Regions from separate parts of the Homo sapiens genome. Here region 1 is linked to region 2. Evidence: fine-mapped expression QTL. A gene starts in region 2. The other region holds a variant in brackets. All regions are shown on one strand. Distances are from middle to middle.

Region 1 (2,782 bases), 21 kb before region 2:
TGCTCCAGCCCTCAGTGCTTTTGTAGTAAAAGTTCATGTAGGCCTGGGCCAGACAGACGGACAGACAGACGGAGGGCGGTGAGGGCTGGGCGGCTGCCTCATGCGCCTCGTGACTGCCCCTCCAAACAAAAGCGGTTCTCATTCCTCCCACTGGGGCCTTGGCTCCAAGGACACGGTGACCTTTGGGCTATGACAGGCCTCAGCCAAGGAACAGTTTGGGTGGTCCTGGGGGTAGGCGTCTCATCTGCATGTACAGCAAGCAAAGGCCCCGCACCCCCCACACCTCACAGCTCCAGCAGAGGCGGGGCCGATGCGGCCTTCCCCGTCTCCTCCACATCCCTGGGGCCAAGGCCCTGTGCTAGTTTCCCTGTAGCTATGATTCTTCTTCTCACCTCCAGGCAAGGCTGTCCCCAAACTCAGCCTGGACTTCATGTGCTTAGGGACTGGTGGGAGTGGGACTTCTGGTTTGGAATCCTGGCTCCATCACCGGAGCCTGCTGTCTTGGGCAAGTGACAGTTCTCCTAGCCTTGGTTTCCCCGTCTGTAGAGCGGGGTTAACGCCCCCCACAGGCCTGGCCGGGGCTTCCTGGGTCTGGTTGGGGGGGCGGGTCTGCGGGGATGCGCCCCAGTCTGACTGCCTGTGCCCCACGTCCTCCCATGCTGCAGAGCCCTGTGGGTCCTCTGACTGCTGTGACCTTTCCTTCCCCCCGTGAGGCAGGTCCTGGCCTCTCTGGTGGCCTCCCAGTGAGCCTCTAGTCAGTCCCTGTCTGTGTCCCGGCTCACCCTCTTCCGTACTTGCTGCTGCCCCTCCAGCAGTTCCAAACGTCTCCAACCTGGGCTCCTCCATCCCCGGTTTCTTGGCCCCAATCCCTCCCACCCTCAGGGACTGGGGCCCACTTCCCCAAACCTTCCCCTCCTCGGAAGCCCCCCCCAGCTCCCGGGACCTGACCCCAGCTTCCCAGCTTCAACATGCTCAACACTGTTCAACCAGCCACATCCCCTCACTGCCGCCCCGTGTCCCGCCCCAGCCTCTGTGCAGGCTGGCCTGGCCCGGAACGCCCGGGCTCCTTGGCCACAGAACTTAGTCCTGCTCAGCCTAAGAGTCCAGTCCTGCCTCCCAGTCAGAACGCTGGCCCTCCTGAGCTCACAGAACACGAGGCTCCCAGGGCTGGGGGCACTGGAACAAGGCTTCTCCCTTTGGGAATGGGGTGAGTTAAATGAGGCCCTAGGTCCCCGGGTGCAGCAACTTCAGCCCTGACCCTGTCCCAGGCTGTGGGGCAAGATGTGCTGGACCCTGAGTCCCCGGATCTGAAGAGGACCGGCTATGCTCATAGGACGGGCTGAGCTCTGCGC[G/A]GGAAGGGGCTCCCTCCTCCCACCTCACCTCTCCAGAGTGTCCTGCTGTGGAAATGGAGGCAGTGGTGAGGGCAGAGCCAAAGGCATCAGGAAAGGCTGGGGTGTGGAGAAGGGGAACCACCCGCACACCTGATGCTTAGGGGAGCGTGGGGTCCAAGGGGCCTCCGCTAGCGATCTCCTGTGATTCCAGCCCCGGGGGAAGAGCGGCAGGCTGGCCTCCCCACCGCCCCGCTCCCGCTGGGCTCCCGGGCTCCCTGTGGCTTTCCGTCCTGTTTCCTCACGCCGGCAGGAGCTGCCCCACCGGAGCAGGGCCTGGGCCATGTAGCTCTCACCTCTCCTGCCACCGGCCATGTGAACAGGGCCCTGGAGGTACCTGTGGAAAATACTTGACCAGCGTGACTGCGAGCTTGATGTAGGAGAAGCAGAAGAGAAACTGCAGCCACGTGGTCACTCCCACTGCAGCCACGATCATGGTGACAAATGCGAAGAGCCACGCGAGCACCAGGAAGCCGATGGCAGGCCAGGACACGCGCTGGCCACCGCGCTGGGGGCGAGAGGAGGGCAGAGATGTGGACCCACACAGAGGCCACGCCGGGGCTGAGCAAGGACGGCCCCGGATAGGGCGGGCTTAGAGAGGGGCACGGAGGCTGGACCCTGGCCTTGAAGGAGCCCCTGCAAGGTGGGGGCTGCACTGGGGTTGTGGCAGGGGAACATGTGGACCACAGAAAGCATCACACCTGGGCTGGTGCTGGACATCCCCAGCACCAACCACACCTTCTCATCGCCAGGGCCTCCTGTTCAGGCTGCTTGGACTCTCAAGCTCTGTCTGCTTTGTTCCTACTTGGCAGAACTGGGCGCCTCTCAGCACTCACTTGGAGACGTGGGGTCGGAACTCTGGTGGCCTGGTGCCTCTCCCAGCCAGGTACTGACTCGTCCCACGACCCGGCAGCAGCCTGAGGATCTCAGGAATCTGTCCCCTCGCCTTGCCTTTCCCTGAACACGGGCCCAATGTGGGCCACCTTCACTCTCGCTTCACACCAAAAGCTAAGAAAGCCTAGAAGGTTCATACGGGTGGGGCCAGACAGCCCCCAGCTGGCCTTACAGTGTGAAGGGAACTCCCTGAGAGAAGGGAAAGCAAAGCTGTCATATCAGGGGTCCCCGGACCCAGCCTTGGTGGGGCCCTGCCCTGCCGACACCCATGGCTTCCAGCAACAAAGCTGAATACAGGTGTCTCCGCCTGCACGCGGGCCCCCTCCTGGCACCCTGAAGCCCAGCTGCACCCGCCTGCTCAGGGTCCCTCTCAAATGCCCCTTGGCCTCTGTGACCTGACCCCTCCAGGAGCCCACCCTGGCCCCTCCCCTCCTCCATAGGAACTTCACTCATCCTTGGAGCCCAACCAAGCGTCTTCCTCTGCCCTCCTCCCTTCTGTG
Region 2 (2,969 bases):
CAATTAAAATGTTAAAAAACATCAGATTAGGCTGAGCGCAGTGGCTCGTGTGTGTAATTCCAGCACTTTGGGAGGCCGAGGCAGTTGGATCACTTGAAGTCAGGAGTTCGAGACCAGCCTGGCCAACATGGTGAATCCCCGTCTCTACTAAAAATACAAAAATTAGCCAGGCGTGGTGGCATGTGCCTGTAGTCCCAGCTACTCAGGAGGCTGAGGCAGGAGAATCGCTTGAACCCGGGAGGTGGAGGTTGCAGTGAGCCGAGATTGCACCATTGCACTCCAGCCTGAGTGATAAGAGTGAAACTCCGTCTCAAATTAAAAAAAAAAAACAAAAAAAAAACCAGATTGATAATTACATACAACTAGTGGCTTGTGAAAGCTACAAGATAGAAATGAAGTATCTCCTGACAATGGGCTCTGTCTGGCGTGCCCTTCCTATGTAAGTTCTAACTATTGTCCAGGCCTCATTCAGATGTCACATGTTTCAAGAAGGCTCCTCACCCATTCAGTCCCTTCCCAGGAGCAACCTGGGGCTAGGGGTCTAGTGTGGCAGCTCCTGTCTGCCAGGTATGAGTTGGTCCTGTCCTCTGTTCTACGACCTGGAACTCCCTGGGTCTCCTGCTTTTGGAGAGGGTACACAAATAGTGGCAAGGGCTGTGTGCACTGGAGACAGGCTTGACCTATTTATTACTTATGCGACCTTGTGGTGCCAAACAAGGAGGTGGTAACTACCTCACAGGACTTAAATGAGGAGATGTAAAGCACGCATTGTCAAGTGGGACTAAAATTGGCTGGGGGTAGGCTGGGCGCGGTGGCTCACGCCTGTCATCCCAGCACTTTGGGAGGCCGAGGTGAGCGCATCACCTGAGGTCAGGAGTTCGAGACCAGCCTGGCCAACATGGTGAATCCCCATCTCTACTAAAAATACAAAAATTAGCTGGGCATGGTGGCTCAGGCCTGTAGTCCCAGCTACTCGGAAGGCTGAGGTAGGAGAATCGCTTGAACCCCGGAGGCGGAGGTTGCAGTGAGCCGAGATCGCGCCACTGCACTCCAGCCTGGGTGACAGAGGCTGCAGACTCCATCTCAAAAAAAAAAAAAAAATTGGCTTGGGGTGGTAGTGAAGAAATCTAGCTATTACAATGGTTTGTGGCCACAGAAACAAATACACAGCGTACTAGTGGTATTAAATTTTATGGGAAGGGGGTAGGTAGGAATAACGAGGTTGAGAAACAAGGATATAAAGTGGTTACCTCTGTTGCTTAGGGCGCCTAGCGAGCTCTCACAAAACACAGTAATCCTCAATGTTACTGGAAGAGGCAGAGCTCAGGAGTCCTCCCTTCGCCCAGTGTGAAAACCCGGAGGGGAGGATGGGGTCTCGTGCTGCTCAGTCCCCCGGAGCCCCGCACTCCGCACGTCAACCGGCGCTCTCGCAAAGGTTCTCTCAGCGTCTCCAAAGCAATCTGCAAATTCCCCAACCGAGACCCAGGCGGCAACTGAGCAGAAGGTAAGGGGCTGGGAACGGCACCCACCCCGGCAGCCCGCTGCCCCTGCCTCGGCTGACCACCGCTCGGGCCCTTCCACCCGGGGGTTGTCCCGTGTCGCGAGGCCAGCACTGGTGGCGGGGAAAGGAGCCCGCCGCGGCTGAGGGCGCTGGACCCCCGGCAGGCTGCCCCGCTGACCTGCTGTGCCTCAAGGGGTCCGCCTGGGAAACAGGGGAGGCCGCGTCCGCTCTCACCTGAGCGCCCCCAGGCTCGAGGAACCGCCCTCACGGGACGCATGAGCCTCGCCAGGTGCCGGTCAGGAATGCACCGCGTTCCCCTGCCCGGCTAGACTTTGGGAGAGGCGGGTCCGCTGTCACCTGACCTCCGCCACCTGACTCGTGGGGCCGGATCTCGGCGAGATGAGCTCTGGGAGTTGTAGTTTCCGCGCGTCTTAGACGGACAGAGCGCAGCTGGGTCGGGCCGGGGCGCAGAGATCGGGGCTCCGGCGTGAGGGAAGATGAGGTCCGCTGCCAGGGACACAGAGACTCTTGGAGCCGCCAGCGCCTCCCGGCTCCTTTCGTGAGCGAAGCTCAGACCGCCCTCCATTGGGCGGAAATCAGAGCCCGTGGGGCGGGGCCCCCTTTAGGTCCCGCCTTCCGCCGCCTCTCCGCCTATAGCCGGGGCCCGCCGAGAGGTTGCGTGGAAGCTCGCCTTCCCCGGCCAGTGGGAAGACGAGAAGCCTCCATGTTGGGTGTGGCTGAAAGATTGGCAGGCGACTCCCCGCCCCTGCCCCGCCCCCCTGGGCGAAGAGCGCGGACTTGTGGGGCCGCTGGCTGCAGACTGGAGCTGCGCGGGTCAGGGAGATAATGGCTGCGCGGCCGATCACCCTCGGCATTGACCTGGGCACCACATCTGTGAAGGCAGCTCTGCTGAGGGCCGCGCCCGACGACCCATCCGGGTTCGCAGTGCTGGCGAGCTGTGCCCGTGCTGCGCGGGCAGAGGCGGCGGTCGAGAGCGCGGTGGCCGGGCCCCAGGTGAGTTGGACCCCCGGGGCCGCGCCGCCTCCAGGAGCCTCCTGACCACCCTTTTCCACCCCAGGAGGCCTCCCTGACAGCCCTTCCCGCAATGAAGTCTCTATTCCAGCTTGTCCCCAGCTTCTCCAGGGGCCCGTCTGCCTGCAGCAGCTGTGCTCATGATCCCTTAGGTCTGGTCCCAGAATCCTTCCCACCTGCTGGGACCGATTCCCCCCCGCCCCCTCCCCGACTCTCTGGCTTCTTCTGGGGGCCTTGCGCTTGGCGCTGGATCCCTGTGCTCTCTGTCCCCTGACCTTGGAGGAACTGATCTCTTGTGTGTATGGAATGACCACAGGCCTCCCTTTCACTCTTGCTGCTCTCCGCTCCTCACACCTGCCCTGTGACCTCAAGTTCAGGATTCAGTTTGTTGCCCAGGGCAGAGTCTGGGTTTTCCTCCGGAAATCAGATGTCAAAT

Evidence for each region.
Region 1: its variant is fine-mapped to the expression of CTNS in lung (TOPMed, PIP above 0.99).

The regions. Positions count from the first base shown.
Region 1 is chr17:3,657,119-3,659,900 of GRCh38, reverse strand. It overlaps CTNS (cystinosin, lysosomal cystine transporter), which reads right to left. Exons shown (of 12, transcript NM_004937.3): 10 at 1,726-1,896; 11 at 1-43. Among named protein-coding and RNA genes, the nearest start is that of TAX1BP3, 10 kb to the left of the region's middle. The variant G/A (reference allele first, on the strand shown) is at 1,353.
Region 2 is chr17:3,635,598-3,638,566 of GRCh38, reverse strand. CTNS (cystinosin, lysosomal cystine transporter) reads right to left here and starts at 1,807. Exons shown (of 12, transcript NM_004937.3): 1 at 1,736-1,807; 2 at 1,251-1,460. It overlaps SHPK (sedoheptulokinase), which reads left to right and starts at 2,317. Exons shown (of 7, transcript NM_013276.4): 1 at 2,317-2,515. The coding sequence starts at 2,348. LOC105371493 (a long non-coding RNA gene) reads left to right here. Exons shown (of 6, transcript XR_007065579.1): 6 at 1-70. RefSeq lists silencers at 1,442-1,531, 2,542-2,601 and an enhancer at 1,812-2,061.